2 linked regions of the Homo sapiens genome follow. The protein of the gene in region 2 interacts with the protein of the main gene of each other region in a pairwise test. Each region holds a gene or a part of one and is shown on either strand. Other genes may lie near its edges. The genes, in order: PSMA6 and ZNF596.

The links.
Region 1: the proteins of ZNF596 (region 2) and PSMA6 interact in binary tests that used the Homo sapiens proteins (3 or more experiments, as listed by UniProt).

What each region holds. Positions count from the first base shown.
Region 1 is NC_000014.9:35,309,144-35,317,810, reverse strand, and holds the end of PSMA6 (proteasome subunit alpha type-6), read right to left. Parts: intron 7,072-8,667; coding exon 6,916-7,071; intron 4,931-6,915; coding exon 4,752-4,930; intron 3,451-4,751; coding exon 3,356-3,450; intron 563-3,355; coding exon 505-562; 3' UTR 318-504; downstream 1-317. UniProt on the Homo sapiens protein: Component of the 20S core proteasome complex involved in the proteolytic degradation of most intracellular proteins. This complex plays numerous essential roles within the cell by associating with different regulatory particles.
Region 2 is NC_000008.11:234,929-243,595, forward strand, and holds part of ZNF596 (zinc finger protein 596), read left to right. Parts: exon of another isoform or gene 1-5,568; intron 5,569-5,895; 5' UTR 5,896-5,967; coding exon 5,968-5,979; intron 5,980-7,958; coding exon 7,959-8,085; intron 8,086-8,667. UniProt on the Homo sapiens protein: May be involved in transcriptional regulation.

The sequences.
Region 1 (8,667 bases), on a different chromosome or scaffold from region 2:
AGGAGGCTGAGGTGAGAGGATTACTTAACAAGGGAGTTCAAGGCTGCAGTGAGCCATAATCATGGCACTGCACTCTAGCTTGGGCAATAGAGCAAGATCTTGTTTTAAAAAACAAAAAACTAATAAGGTATTGTGTACCTCAAAATAGCTAGAGGAGAGGATTTTAAATGTTCTCACCACAAAAACACCGTGTTTCAGGTGATGGATATGCTAATCACCCTAATTTGATCATTATAATGTATACATGTATCGAAACATCACATTGCACCCCATAAATATGTACATTAGGTGTCAAAAATAAATTTTAAAATAGGAGGTGAAAACAACAGGATGCAATTATTTTCCAAAAGCCTTGTTTTTATTTATATAGAGTCCTAACCACTTCGGTGGTAGGAGGAGTGGGAGAGGCTCCTTTTTCAATCCAGGGACCTCCATGATGTTGGTTTGTTGTTACCAAACACACAGGTAAGTGGCATCACGGATCTGGTAAACTAACGACAATGTTTAGTCTCTCTCTGCTAGAGCAACAAGGTGAGCATCAATCTCTGCTTCTGTAAGAATCCTAGAAGGCAAAAGGGGGAAAAAAACAACGATTTAAAAAAAATTTTTTCAAACACACGTAAAAGTGGGATAGTATAATAAACTCCCATATACCTATCAACCTACTTTAACAATTATCAATTTATAAACCAATCTTTAAAAAATCTATACACACACTTATCTTCCCTCAGATTATTTTGAAGGAATTCCCAGATATTATACCACCTTCACCTATACACAAAAATGTTTACTTTGACATCAGATTTAGAATTGTATCTTGAAAATAAAATTCTTTAGTTGCAGCTAAGATAGAAAATATTTCAATTGAATAACATAAATAAAGCTAAACTATAAAGTATTCTATTTAGCTTCTATGTCAAAATGCATTTATTTTTTATTTTTTTTGAGACAGAGTCTTGCTCTGTCACCCAGGCTGGAGTGCAGTGGCGTGATCTCGGCTCACTGCAAGCTCTGCCTCCCAGGTTCAAACGATTCTTCTGCCTCAGCCTCCTGAGTAGCTGGGACTACAGGCATGTGCCACTATGCCCAGCTAATTTTTCTATTTTTAGTAGAGATGGGGTTTCACCATATTGGACAGGCTGGTCTGGAACTCCTGACCTCGTGACCCGCCTGCCTCAGCCTCCCAAAGTGCTGGGATTACAGGCGTGAGCCACCTTGCCCAGCCGTCAAAATACATTTATATGTAGTATAACTGAAATTTATGTCAGCTCAAAGATAAAAATTCATGAAGAAATTTTAAGCATATTAAAGTGTTCAGATTCAGAAGTTCATGAAAATAAAGTTATAATTCTATGAATAGTCTACCAGCCAGAGAGTGCTCCATGTTGAACATATATTTCCTTTCTCTTTTTTTTTTTTTTTTTTGAGATGGAGTCTGACCCTGTCGCCCAGGCTGGAGTGCAGTGGCACAATCTTGGCTCACTGCAACCTCCGCCTCCCAGGCTCAAGCAATTCTCCTGCCTCAGCCTCCCAAGCAGCTGGGATTACAGGCGTCCACCACCACATCTGGCTAATTTTTGTATTTTTAGTAGAGATGGGGTTTCACCATGTTGGCCAGGCTGGTCTCAAACTCCTGACCTCAAGTGATCTGTCCACTTTGGCCTCCCAAAGTGCTGGGATTACAGGTGTGAGCCACCATGTGTGGCCCTGAACATGTATTTTCTAAATGATGTTTGCCTCGAAAGGAAGCAATTGTTTGGCAACCTTGTTAATGTGACCTATTACTACTAGACTTCTAAAAAGTGAAATTTGTCAAAAGGACATTTTTTAGTGCAACTGAAGGCAATATCAAGCAGTTTAAATAGTTGTTGATGCTTATGCTATGTACTGTAATTATTTACATATATTTACTATCACAGAATTTATAAATGATACAAAGTTTTTTGAAGACAAGATTTTTGATTCCTTACCAATTTAAAAAATAACAAATACAATTTTAAAGGTGGCAGGAAGGTCTCCAAACAGAAAAGAAAACAAGAACTAATTGTAGGTTCCTTAGAGAGATTTTAAGATTATTCTTGCTGAAATTTTTACTTAAAAAAAAAAAAGGCACCTTTTTCAAAAGCAACTTGATCCCTGCCCCCACCCCTCACCCCTACCCCAACCCAAGTTACAAGACTTCTTCCTACGGGAAGAAAAGCTAGGATAGATTCGCTTTTGGTGTTGTCGGTTGTTTTTTTAACAGATGAGGTCTCACTATGTTACCCAGGCTAGAGTGCAGTGGCTATTCACAGGCACTATCATTGCGCACTACAGCTTTCAACTCCAAGGCTCAAGCCATCCTCTTGCCTCAGCCTCCTGAGGAGCTGAGACTACAGATGCATGCCACAGCACCCAGCTGTTTTTTTTTTTTTAAAGTCCTATGAATTTTTCTGAATCTGTCATGTTTATATGACTTATCTGTGGGCAACCAAAAGAACAAATTAGGAAAAAAAAGAACAAACGAAAAACCTCTTCAAGGTCTAGTTAAGCTTAGTTTACCACTCCCGTACCCCACACCACAACCAAGACCATGTGTCTTTATGGTTGTGATCTAAGAATAGATACACATAATAGTTAAAATGCCTCCCAGTAGTTCCTTGTATCTGTCGATTTAACTGCAGTATTTTCATTAAAGATAAGAGCATCCTGGTCCATGGTATATCAACTGCCTCACAGGGCTGCTGGGAGGATTAAATGAGCTGATTATACGAAGCACTCAGTATGGATTTGAATCATGGAAGCTATAAGGCTGATGTGTGGGAGTTAGTCACTTAGTGAGTAAGAACACACACACACACACACACACACACACACACACACATCCAGCAACTGCAAGTCAATTAGCTGTATTCAAAATTTGGGCTTTCCAAAGATCTCTAGATAAGGGTCTGACATATATCAGTAACTCATATTGCTCCTCAAAGTTCTACTTAAATAACCACTAAATAACCAAAGTTCTATCTGAAAAACTTGCAAACTACTACTTTGGGAATTGAATTTGTATTGGCCTTAAACTAAAAAAAAGAAAACACTTATGCTAATTTTTTTCCTTACATAAGGAAGGTAACTTTATGTCATCTCTGGTGTTAGATATAAAATCACTCTGAAATAAGGAGAAAAGCTTTCATATCTGACTCTTAAATAGAGTCCAAAGTTTTAAAAACAGATCTCAGGTGCTGGGGAAAAAAACAAACACACAAACAAAAACTATAATGACAGTTAAAGAAAAAAGATTTCCCCCACAAGTTATAGGACACATGGACTCACACGCCTCCACCTTTCTAGTCTGCATGTGGCCCACAATATCACTCACCTGAATTTAGGATTTTCAACTGTCACTACTCCAACTTCTATTTCTGAAGGTTTGAAATCAATTGATAGAACAGTAGACAGGCATGTAATTGCAGTCTGAAAAAAAGTATTTAATGTTAAAATATAGTATTTTTTAGAGATTCCAAGGTTTTCTCATTCCTAGCTTATTCAAATCATGAGTCAATCAGGAGCTCCATGTTTCAATGAGGTAGTTCAATGTTACTAACAGACTGCTTAACTCTAATGTATTGCCTCCCAATGATGAGAAATTTTTTTCTACCAAGTCAAATAATAAAGGGGTCCATTAATTAAAATAGGATGATTTATACAAAAAGGTTTATTGGCTTCATGACCCAGGCACTACACTTCACTTAGCACTTGGGGTGAAATGGGAAAAGGATAAAGATGAATGATACTCTCTGCATCTTCAAGGAATTTACAGTAAAAACGATTTAAGAATGTTTTAAGTGTTGTTTGTTTGTTTTGTTTCTGTTTTTTGAGGCAGAGTCTCACTCTGTCGCTCAGTCTGGAGTGCAGTGGCGCCAGCCTGGCTCACTGCAACCTCAGGCTCGTGGATTCAAGCGAGTCTCCTGACTCAGTCTCCTGAGTAGCTGGAATTACAGGCGCCTGCCACCATGCCCGGCTAATTTTTGTATTTTTCATAGAGACAGGGTTTCGCCATGTTGGCCAGGATGGTCTCAAACTCCTGACCTCAGGTGATCTGTCTGCCTCCCAAAGTGCTGGGATTACAGGTGTGAGCCACCTTAAGTGTTTTTTTACCGGATGTGGTTATTTATGTAATTAATTATGAATTGCAATAAAAGAAACCTTTAAGAAATATTTAGACAGGGCCCAGTACTTCCTGAACATGAACTAGCTTTTTATCTCCTTTAAGCATACTTCCAAACCAAACGTAAAAGCATTAGATGGTAATTTTTTTTTGGTCACTTATCAGAAGCATGTTGTTAGCATCTTCAGAATGGCTTTAATTCCAGACTTACACCCAAAATCTACTAAAATTTTTGTTTTTAATTTCTTGGCAGTAAATAGGACTGGCCTCGAACACCTAGACTCAAGCAGTCCTCCAGCTTCAGCCTCTCAAGTAGCTGGGACTACAGGTGTGTGCCACCATGCCCAGCTGGTTCCTATTTTTATTTATATTTTCCTATTATATGCGTTTTGTTGAAAGCCACCTCAAATACATTACGAAATAAGGAATTAAGTGAATAAAAGCAACTCAAATTTTCCTATGTCAGCTGTATGATATCAATTTCATTATTAAGTTGACAACTTGAATCCTGGGATGTAATTCAGGAATAGCTTTGTATAGAAATTATACAAAGATCCTCACTGTTCTATATAGCATAAAAAAAGTCAGCTCCTTTTGGTTGACTTACTTCCACTGTCTGTTCAAATGTCCAATCAAATTTCTTCTTCACTTTTTTTTCAAGGAAGCTGGTTGACTCAGTTTGTTTAACTCCCGCTGCAGTGGCTTTAAACCCACAGTAGTAACCTGCAGGATCACACTTATATACCTGAGGGCCTTGCTCTTCATCTATACCAATTAAAATCATACCTAAAAAGAGAAAAGACCCTAATTAAATGTTTTAGCTTTATACAATGACATCTCCTCTTTCTTGGTGGTGTCACATAGCTGCTGCTAATCATGACTTTGGCCATCAATTTTAGGATATGTATTTTCCTTTAAGAAAACTGATAAAATACAGGTTATCACCACAGGTAAATTAGGTAACAGGTAAATTCCCATTTCACAAAAGGATTTATCACAGATTAAAAAAAATAGTTTGAATAATTACAAATACAATTTAAAAATAGTGTTTCCAATCCTTGCTGTTATCCAAGCATGTTTATTTGAACCCTAATCCTTCAAGATGTTGCCTGGTCAAATAAACTTCAAAAACACTTTTTTTTTTTTTTTTTTTTTTTTTTGAGACAGACTCTCGCTCTGTCTCCCAGGCTGGAGTGCAGTGGCACGATCTCGGCTCACTGCAAGCTCCTCCTCCCGGGTTCACGCCATTCTCCTGCCTCAGCCTCCCGAGTAGCTGGGACTACAGGTGCCCACCACCACGCCCAGCTAATTTTTTGTGTTTTTAGTAGAGACCGGGTTTCGCCGTGTTAGCCAGGACTGGTCTTGATCTCCTGACCTTGTGATCCACCTGCCTCGTCCTCCCAAAGTGCTGGGATTACAGGCGTGAGCCACTGCATCTGGCCAACCTTTTTTTTTTTTTTTTTTTTTAGGAGACGAGGACTCGCTGTTGCCCAGGGTGGTCTTGAACTCCTGGGTTCAAGTGATCCTCCTGCCTCGGCCTCCCAAAGTGCTGGGATTATAAGTGTGCACCACTGTGCCTGGCCCAAAAACACTTTCATATACCTTTTCTGGAAACAGATAATAAATAATAGCATATTAAATGCTGTGAAATATTCTGTTGTAGATTGACCTATTTAACTTTAACTCAGTAGTTCTTCTGTTTGTTTGACCAAGAAATACTTTTTTTTTAAAATAGAAATACCTATTAAGGTTCCAGGGAACAGTGTATGGGACACACTTTGGGAATGCTGGCACAAACTGAAATACACTTACAGGCTACCTGCTCACCTTTACACTGCCCATCTTCATTACTGTTGGTATATACTCCTCTAGTAAGTCACACAAACCAAGCTCTAAATTCTATACATGTAACTTTGTTACTACAATTCTAATGTTACCATATTATAGGAATACAATTAAAATAAACACCATCATTAAATTTCTTTCTACTCAGTAGAACAGGTAACAAAGTACTTAATGGTTTGACTGCTTTCTTATATTTGATATATACAAAATATAAGGGCAACACAAAAAAGTACCCACTTACTGCTTGGGGAAACAACAAATACTTCTTTCCTTCAAGGTCTTGCAAGATGAATATGATTTAAGTAATTTTTAAGTGAGAAGTCAAGAGGGTCAGATGCTAAACAGAAATCATTACACTGACTGCTTTAATGCTCATAAATGAATGACACAATGTCAGAAACAAACATGCACTGAATTTTTCAGGCTAATTTATTACATCACATCTAAAAATCAGTAAATCTCATCCCTCTCCCAATACAATTTTACTTGTTTTCAAAAATAGAAATTTATTCTAAAAATGTGAATTACACACCTGTGTGTGACCCTAATTCTTTAGGGTGGTCAAAACAAACAGCTACATTATTAAGATGCCTGATGCAGGTATTTCTATGGAATTAGTAATCTCGAATTGCAGTAGAACCTCATTACAACATCCTAATAATGAGGACTTGCATCTTTCAAATCACATACACCAAATGGAAATACTTTGATAAAAAGTCTAACAGCATCTAAAGCTTAAAGATAATGCCCGACATACTGTTGTGAAACCTATCCTTTAGTTCTGATTTATTATAAAGATTTTCCCACTCTATGTATTTTCCAAACCACATGTTCAGAACTCAAGTGTTATTTAAATAATTCTGTATACATGTTCTGTAAAAAGTTTCAATTCATCAATTATTTGGGAGACCTCTTAGCATACTTACAACAACCAAGAGGCCTCATTTCAGCATTCTGTGTGTAGACCTGAGAAATATCGGCAATTCTTTTACACAGCATGTCCACAGGAATCTCATAGCCATACTTGTATTTCCAGTTAGCTGCCTCATAGCGTGCCCTCTGTACCTGGGATCTGCTGTCAGCTTATAGCATAAAAAACAAAGATTTACCTGGTTAGAAGGAAAGAACAAACCTGAAAGCCAGGCAATTTAGCCAGGCAATTTTCCCACCATATAGACATACATGAGTTAAAGAGAAAGGGTCCGCTACGGCTTTTTCTCCCCCAATGAATACTAAATAACTCATCAACAAGTATATGAAAAAAATTTAAAAACATGAAGCTCTCTACACAGTACTCCCCTTTTATACTGAGCCTTTCATCAGCAGTCAAAATAGTTTCTGCAAGTATCCAGTAACTCCCAAAAGAAAAAGCATTAAGGAGGCAGGGCATGGTGGCTCAACACTTTGGGAGGCCAAGAGAGGCGGATCACTTGAGGCCAGGAGTTTGAGACCAGCCTGGCCAACATGGCTAAATCCTGTCTCTACTAAAAACATAAAATTAGCTGCACGTGGTGGTGCATGCCTGTAGTCCCAGCTACCTGGGAGGTTGAGGCACGAGAATTGCTTGAACCCAGGAGGCGGAGCAGCCTGGGCGACAAAGTGAGACTCTGTCTCCAAAAAAAAAAAAAAAGGCCTTGAGAGAGAATAATCTTTCTTAATCTTTGTTTTTAGGCTTAAATTAGTTTTTCATTTTTTTTTTAGAGATGGGGTCTTGGACTGGCACCCAGTGAGCCATCATAGCTCACTGCAGCCTTGAATTCCTTGGCTCAAGTGATCCTCCTACCTCAGCCTCCTGAGTAGCTAGGACTACAGGTATGTGCCACCATACCAGCTAATTTTTTTTTCTTCTTCAAATGGAGTCTTGCTCCGTTGCCCAGGCTGCAGTACAGTCTCATGATCTTGGCTCACTGCAACCTCTACCTCCCGGGTTCAAGCGATTCTCCTGCCTCAGCCTCCTGAGTAGTTGGGATTACAGGCACCTGCCACCATAGCTGGTTAAGTTTTTTGGTATTTTTGTTTTTATTTTTTGAGACAGTCTCACTCTGTTGCCGAGGCTGGAGTGCAGTAGTACAATCTCAGCTCACTGCAACCTCTGCCTCCCGAGTTCAAGCAATTCTCCTGCCTCACCCTCCTGAATAGCTGGGATTACAGGTGTGCGTGCGCCACCATGCCCAGCTAATTTTTGTATTTTTGGTAGAGATGGAGTTTCACCACGCTGGCCAGGCTGATCTCGAATTCCTGACCTCAAGTGATCCGCCTGCCTCGGCCTCCCAAAGTGCTGGGATTACAGGTGTGAGCCACCGTGACCAGCCCCTAGCTAATTTCTAAATTTGTTATAGAGATGGAGTCTCACCATGTTGCCCAGGCTGGTTTTGAACTCTTGGTCTTAAACAATCCTCTCACCTTGGCCTCCCAAAGTGCTGGGATTACAACTGTGAGCCACTGTGCCCAACCTAAAATAATTTTCATAATAATTCTCACTCACTTCTAACCGATGCCATTATTACCAGGTTTGAGATATACTGAGTTAGGTCCCCTTAAACTACTAACTATAGCTGAAATAAGATAAAATCATCTATGAAAGGGCCCTCAGCCCAGTTTCTCCGACAGCAGCATAAGCATCTAATTCTATTATAGGTATAATTTCAAAAAAGCTCACAATACTCTTAAAATATTGA
Region 2 (8,667 bases):
GTAGTGAATTAATGTCAGGAATATCTGACAAATCCTGGAAAAGAAGATTGATGAGAGGAAATGTGTTCTGCCCAACTGTATAATGCATTTGAAGCTTAAAACAATGAATCAGTATTGATCTGGCCACAAAATATTAATGATTTGAATTAAAAAGAAAAGTTTAGAAAATGATAGCTTTGACAAATTAAGGTAGCATTTCATCCACACGATGGAGTGTGTTTTATTCAGTAATTGATTTAAAAATGGAATCAACCTAAGTGTCTAACAGGAGGGAGTTTTATAAATTGTTCACAGAACATCTGTTCCAAGGAGACCTTGATGTTCATAGATTTGTAAAGAATGCTGCTTACTAGCACACTGACTGCTCTGCAAATGTCTGAGGGTTCCTCCACTTGGGGCAAGTTGGGGGTTTGATCGCAGAGTAAATAAATGGTGCATTTTATAATGTAATATATTCTAGCAAGATGCAGCCCACAAACTGTATAGATACTCTTATGTACCACATAAAGTTCATCTACTACTTTAACCAGAACTTGATACTGTATGTATGTTTTTTTTTTTTAGATTTGGATAAAATGACAACTCATTGTTATTTCCAGTTCACAAAGTAATTGTGAGGCTGAATAAATTTTATTATTTTATAGACATATGTGTAAAATGAATTTTTCTATGAAACTCATTTTTGATGTATATTAGATGCTATTTTATATTCTGTAGTTTAATTATATGTACGCACACACAAACACACACTTCGGTGTCTTATTATGTTTCTGCAGTGAAACCAAAATCCTTCCTTCACGCCCTTTGATTTTATGTTTTCCTCAGGAAGGCAGGAGCTATTGTATATGATAAAATATTATGTTTTATTCAGTCCACTTATGAAATTGTTTAATATTGTTATAAATATTTATATGACTTATTTTAAATTTCCAAATAACATAGGTTACATGAAATTTGACAACTTTATTTTTTTCTTTTCACAACTATTTTGACTGTATACTCACCAAAAATCAAAATTTAGACAAAATTGACTTTTAGACTAATTCTCATTTTTTACATGTAAAAGACCACATGGGACTTTTAAGTCTAGGTTGCCCTGAGTCTACAGTCACTGAGGTTTTATGTCACTATGTCCTCCATTCTAATAATAGGATTTTCAGGCTTTATTCATGTCATTTTTATATCCTCATTAAGTTTTAAAATTTATTTACATGGGTCTACAAATTTATTTCAAATCGTAGTCATAATATTTGCCTGTTGTAAATAGACACTGATTTTGTGTGTTTGCTTTTTTTAAGGACTAATGTTGCTAAACAGGAAATATTGATTTCAGAATATTCATAATAGTTTTGCCCACTTTTTAAATATTCTTATTAGTATTGATAATTAGAATTGATTCCACTTTTTCAAGTTTACAGTCACGTCATCTGAGAATAACTACAGTTGCAGCTCTTTGACTCCATTTTTGTAGTCCCTCTCCTTTTCCCTCTTGTTTTGGTCCCACCTCAGGCATCATGTGCAGTGGTGAATGGCATCAGCCTCACCCAGCCTCCTTTTTCCAGCCTTACCTTTAGTGGAAATGGTTCTTTTGTTAACTGCTGAATATATTGTTGAGATTTTATTGATTAAGAAGAATTAGTCCCCACAATTTGGTATGATTTTTAAAGATTTTATATTATTTTTAAAGATTTAAATTATATGAAAATGTTTTTTCAAAGGTCTATTAATGTGATTTTTTTAATCTTTAAAATTACTTTGTGAAAATGATAGGTTTTCTAGTATGGAATTATCCTTTTATTATTGCAATAAACTCCACTTTACCATGCTCTGTCATTATTTAACCATACCAGTGATGGCCAGGTGGCCAAAATAAATAGCCAAATGGCTAAAATTGTATTGATGATTTTTGCAAATGTAAGTAAGGAAAATTGTTGGTTAAATTTGTAGTTATTGTTACATTCATGTTCATTTTGATTAGCATAATAAACTAATGAGGACAGGCTTATTTTTCTCCTTCAAAATAACTTAGGTTACAAAGGAACTAGAAGTGATTTCACATGTAAGAACTCTCACAAATCACTTTTACAGTTAAACTCTGATATATAACTTAAACATTAAAATTGGCTAATCAGATTTTTGTGCTGATTAATGAGGGAAAGTTTTTACTCTTTTTGTGGAAAGTAATATACATATTCATGTTGGAATATAATTATTCCCATTTCTTAGATTTTAAATTACTACTTTTAAATAAATACAGTCTCTTTTATTAACCTGTGTTTTTTCTTTCCACCGTGGGTCTTTTCAGTTTCATGATTTTGCTCTCAAAACTTTTTAATTATTGATTTCTGTCAAATCTGTTCATTCATTACATTATTTTATTATTTATTAAATTGTTTTATCTTTTTAAGTCTTATTAATATGTACTGAATTTGTAACAATTTGGAAAGTCAAGTAACTCCTGTTTTATCTTTTTCTTGGTTTATGAGTGTTTTTAAAGTTTTACGTTTCTTGAAGATCACAGCTGTAGCCCCAATTCCATGGTTCTGGCTACTTACATTTATCATACTTATTAATATCATGAATGTAATTGGAATACCCCTTTGATTTTACTGGTGACGTATACCCACTAGTGTACTGAGACGGAAAAAAAAGTCTTTAGAACTCAGATAAATATACAGTTCATATTTACTATTTATGTATGTGTGATCTCATTATTAAATTACTCTATCATGTTTGTGGAATTAGCAGTTTCTCTTTGAATTTGGATGTTTCTAGTTATGTGTATTTCCAACGTATGTTTTTAGCCACATACACTTTATTGAATATCATATTTGGTGTTTAATTTTTGCTAGGATTATAGGCTGGACTCCAGATCCAAACTTGACATGTAGCAGACCCATTAAAAACATACATTAAGCCCCTAGCACTGTTTTAATCTCCATGGCCTGGCTGAGCTTCTGCCATCTGTCTTCCTAGGCACCATGAGGTCTGGACATCTCATTTGGCATAACTCAGCTGTGGCCATTGGTGGATCTCATCCTTAGTACTAGTCCCTGCTGGCAGGGGTGACCCAGGCCCACATAAGCCATTGCTGGCCTCCTTGGAGGACTTAGAGAATCCTGAGATTGCCCATGAGGATGGACATGCCTTTCAGTCTAGCACCCACCTTTAGTGATGCCTGTGGAGATTGAGAAGCTCACAGGGGCCTTGGATGTCTTTCTTATACCTCCATTGTCTGCAGCGTGACTCCCATACTCTTGAGCCAAGGTAGAGAATTTTTAGGAGGCTTGTGTGGAGGTTTATGGTGGCCCCCATGGTTCTGTGAGACTGGTAGAAAGCACAGACCCCTTAGACTTCTCCCCAAGGAGAATACGTGAGACTAGTGGAGGAAAGGAGAGTAATGAAATATGCATTTCGTGTCCCAGGCTATCAGAGCACAGCTCTAAGGAAAAATACAGGGCATCGTATAGCAACTGGCACAGCTCTGTGAGACTGGGAGATATTGCACAACCTTGAAAAATCAAGATGTGACCCTACTGAATGAACAAAATAAATCTCCAATAATTGACCATAAAGAAATACAGGTTTCTGGCTGGGTGCGGTGGCTCACACTTGTAATCACAGCACTTTGAGAGGCCGAGGTAGGCAGATCATTTGAGGCCAGGAGTTCAAAATCAGCTTTGCCAACATGGTGAAATACAAAAAAAAAAAAAAAAAAAAAAAAAAAAATTAGCTGGTCGTGGTGACGGGCACCTATAATCCCAGCTACTCAGGAGGCTGAGGCAGGAGAATCACTTGAATCCAGGAGGTGGAGGTTGCAGTGAGCTGGTATCGTGCCGTTGCACTACAGCCTGGGCAACGCGAGTGAAACTCCGCTTTAAAAAAAAGAAAAAGAAATGGAGGTTTCTGATTTTCCTGATAAGAATTACAGGTAATTGCCTTAAAGGAGGTCAATGAGCTATGAGACAACACTGATAACAAGTAAAATCTGGAAAAGGATACATGAACAACATGAGAATATCAACAAAGAAAAACCATAATAAAAGAATCAAATATAGATTCTGGGGCTGAAGAATACAGTAACTGAACTGGATCAATACAAGGCTTCAAGAGCTGACTTGATCAAGCAGAAGAAAGAACCAGTGAACTCAAAGACAGGTTATTTGAAATTATTCAATCAGAAGAGCAAGTAGAAAAAGAATTTTTTAAAAGTGAAGAAACTGTCTGTCTTTGCTAAAAATTGGAGGGTCCTAAGAACTCCTCCCCGCCCCCACTGCCAATGCAGAGTCTTACTCTGTCACCCAGGCTGGAGTGCAGTGGTTCGATCTCCGCTCACTGCAACCTCCACCTCCCAGGTTCAAGCGATTCTCATACCTCAGCCTCCCGAATAGCTGAGATTACAGGTGCCTGCCACCATGCCCAGCTAATTTTTGTATTTTTAGTAGAAACGGGGTTTTGGGGTTTCACCAAGTTGGCCAGGCTGGTTTTGAACTTCTGACCTCAGGTGATCCTCCTGCCTTGGCCTCCCAAAGTGCTGGGATTACAGGCGTGAGCCACCATGCCCGGCAAGAACTCCTTTTTATGTTAGATTCACTAGGGTTTAGCAGCTCACAGAACCCAGGAAAACAGTTTACTTAGCTGATTTATTACAAAGGACATTTTAAATATTACATATGAACAGCCAGCTAAAGAGTTACATACAGCAAGTTTTGGAAGCATCTTAGGTTTAGGAGGTCTGTCTCCAAGCAGTTGGGGGGTACCATTGTTTCAGCATATGGATGTGTTCTTCACCCACCCAGAAGCTCTAGGAATCCCATCATTCAGGGATTTTTATGTGGTGTTCATCAAGTAGGCATAATTGTTATTAACTCGATCTCCAGCCTCTGTCCCTTTCCCAAAGGATAGGGGGTGGGACTGTACGTTCCAAGCTTCTGATCAAGTCATGGTCTTTCAGGTGATCACCCCCCATCCTAGAGCCTAGTAATAATTGTCTCATTAGAACAGAAGACACTCTTATCACCTATGAAGTTCCAAGGCATTACGAGCTCTGTACTGGGAACCAGGGTCAAAGACCAAAAAGAACAAAAGCTTCTCCTAGCAACTCTGTTGCTTAGGAAATTACAAGGGTTTTGGGTGGCTCTGTGCCAGGAACTGGGGATGAAAACCAAACTATCTATTTCTTACAACTAACAATGTCACATACATGTTCAAGTTTTCATGTTCTTAGTGTCCTTTCATTTCAACTTGAGGAACTCCCTTTAGCATTTCTTGTAAGGTATGTCACTTGTAAAGTGTGTCTTTTAAGGAATCCACCATGATAAAATGAAATTTGAAGCTGCTTGGTAGATAAATTCATGCTACATTTATCTACAGGTCAGACTTGAGGGACTGGTATTTCTAGAAGCCTCACATGGAAGAGACAGAATCATTCAGTACAAGTGTATCCAGAGGACCAGCAGAAGGGAGAAGGAATGGAGGGAGGCTCCTGAGGGCTGAGATGCATGTGGAGAAAGCCTGCAAGCACACAAACCGAGAATAATTAAATCTGAGAAATTCCAGGATTTATCTGTAGGTGGAGCCACATCTCCATGATTCAGGGATTCTTAGGATTTGGAATCATAGAAGGAATTAAACATTTCAGAATTCCATGCGCTAGGTGGCATATGAAACTCCATGATTTTCACATTTCTAGGTCTAAAATAAAAATATTTATATCTTTATTAGCAGCAATAGTCATTTCTTCTGACCCTGGGAGAGGAGAGCCACCAACCCAACCCACCCCCTACCCACTGCATGTCCTTGTTGGTTGGACTGGGGCTAATAGCTTTGGGGCAGATGTTAGAAGCAAAACTGGAGTGTCATGGTTTTTTTGTTTTTGTTTTTGTTTTTGCTCAGATTTGTCTTCTTAGTGCTTGGATGGTGTGAGTGAAAACCCAGAGGAATACATTTGGTGGCTGAGCTAGTACAATGCCATCACCGGTGAGTGGGAAATTCTTCTTTCTACTGAAATTTGTACCCCTGTTACCAGCCTAAGGGCAGATTCATCCTATTAACATGGATGTTCTAAGTGCACTCAAGGATCCAAGCTCCAATTAAGATTCCCCAGGGCTTCGGAATGTTTACATTGGCTCAAAGAGTCATCAAGAAGTAATGTCCTTTCAACAGTACACTAAGGCATTCCAGCCTCTACTAAGGCTGTGTATTAAGATGTGAGAGGTTTTTGTTTCTCTCATCCAGTCTCAGGGAAATCATTCATTACGAGCCTCTCATGGCCTTGTTGGGGAAATAAATTCACTCATTACCTATGTTATTGGCAGGAGTGGGCTTGAGAGTATATGTGGGTAGGTGGTGAAAATAAGTGAGAGCAGGTTATAGCCCATACAAAGGCAAGCTCAGTTAGTCTAGTGTTTCAGGTGTTAGGGGAGGGCTGTTTAACTTGAAGGGAAAGCAGATAGGGTTAGGACAGAGGAGACAATGAGGAATTATTCATTTATTTTTCCTATCTCAAAATCTTAATGTCTTGAGAGAATAAATGTGAACTTTTGAAAAACTTAAAAAGCAAAATTAAAATTCTTATTACCCTTGTCCCCAAATTAACCTCTGATCAAATTTGATAACTGGAAGCAACTGGAGTGTTGTTTCTTTAATTTTGGTTGTGCATTAAGTGATGGAGTATAGGAAACAGAGTAAATTTAAAACTCTGAGGAAATTTTTGAAGTGGAGAGACCAGGACAATCAAAGGATTTTTTTTCCCCTAAATCTAGAGACAACATGAAGAAACAAAATAGAATAGTACCTAGTGCATTAGTCCATTTTCACACCGCTATAAAAAACTACCTGATAGTGGGTAATTTATGAAGAAAAGAAGTTTAACTGACTGACAGTTCTGCAGGCTTAACAGGAAGCATGACTGGGAGGCCTCCAGAAACTTACAATCATGGTGGAAGGGGAAGCAAGCACCTTCTTCATAAGGCAGCAGGAGAGAGACCAAATCAGGAAATGCCACACACTGTTAAATCATCAGATCTTCTGAGATATTACTAGCATGAGAACAGCAAGGGGGAAGTTCACCCCCATGATTCAATCACCTCCCACCGGACCCCTCCCCCAACATGTGGGGATTACAATTCAAGATGAGATTTGGGTGGGGACACAGAGCCAAACTATATCACCTGGTGTTTGAAGATCCCACATAAAATTGAGAAAGGAAATCCTCAGACCATGGAAAGTGGCAGGATGAGACCATCTTTCAGTACTGAAGTCTTAGAGTCCCTGGCTTGTGCTGCTGAGCCATTCATCCTTATCCATTAACAGTGAACACCTGAGTTGTGTAGACATAAGAGGCTGCATCTGCTGATACCAAGTTCTATATGAAAGTTGTTCACACAACTGAGTGTTCTCAGTCATTTCATGAATAATGTATTTGTGGCTTGTATCTAAAAAGTGATAGATAGGAACCACTTTACATACTATCTCATTGGACCTTTTTGAACTCATAACAGGTCTTTATTTTATTCTGAGGACACTGAGGTCCTATAGTGGAATATCTAACTATAGTCTTGATTAAAACGTGACAAATTATGGATGCTGCCTCCCTTGTAGTGAGTCTATAGATTTTCTTGAAGGTGGTGGAGAGGAGAATTTTAGTTCTAAATTTCCAAGTACAGATTTCATAATTAGTATCTGTAAGTTATACTTTAGAAGTCTATTGGGAAATCTTCAGGTTATATTATGCCACACCACATGTGATATTTCTCTATGTGAAGTTTTATGTATGAGTAAATCTGAAAGCCAGATTCCCAGTTCAGATTTAAAGCAATGTGACAGGAACCCCAAACACTGTTTTGAGTTTTCTGTTCATACCACCCACACTTCCTTAGTACAGTCACTTTGATCTTGCTCCACTGAACATTGGCAGAGATAGCCCTGTTTGCAGTAGAATGTCCATAATGTTTTAGGATTCCATGACCTTCGAGGATATCATTGTAGACTTCACTCAAGAAGAGTGGGCCCTGCTGGACACATCCCAGAGAAAGCTGTTTCAAGATGTGATGTTGGAGAACATCAGTCATCTGGTCTCTATTGGTGAGTCTCTTTATATTTATTATGTATGTATATACGGATTCATTCACTCACTCATTTTTCACTGATTCATTCTTTCATTCTACACGTGCTTAGAACAGCTTTCTCATCTATCACTTCAACTTCTGCTTTGATCCTTTCATAACTCTCACAATTACCTGACAGCCATTTCTTTCCTTTTCACTTATATTGATTTGTCCTCTCTCTAGAAAGTCATCTTTCTGACCACAGTTTCACATCCTTCTTGCTCTTTAATCTCCCAAACTCAGAAAAGTTATGGTAATTCACTGCTTTGGTATGCATAAATAAATGTATTGATTTCTTTAAAGTAATTATTCTATCATAGGGACTGTTCTGCACAGAACCTAGATTGTTCTGGTGGAGCTAATATTTATTGCATAGTTTTTTAATATAATGTCAAATACTATGACAATTTGTAATTTCTCACTAAGTGAAAACACTGAGGATTCTGAAATCAGTATTTGAAGTGAGGCATGGCCATCAGCAATTATAGGTCTTTTATGTCTGGGAACAAGTTCAAGAGTTTTCATTTTGCTCGTGAAGGACTGTCAATGTTGTCTTCAA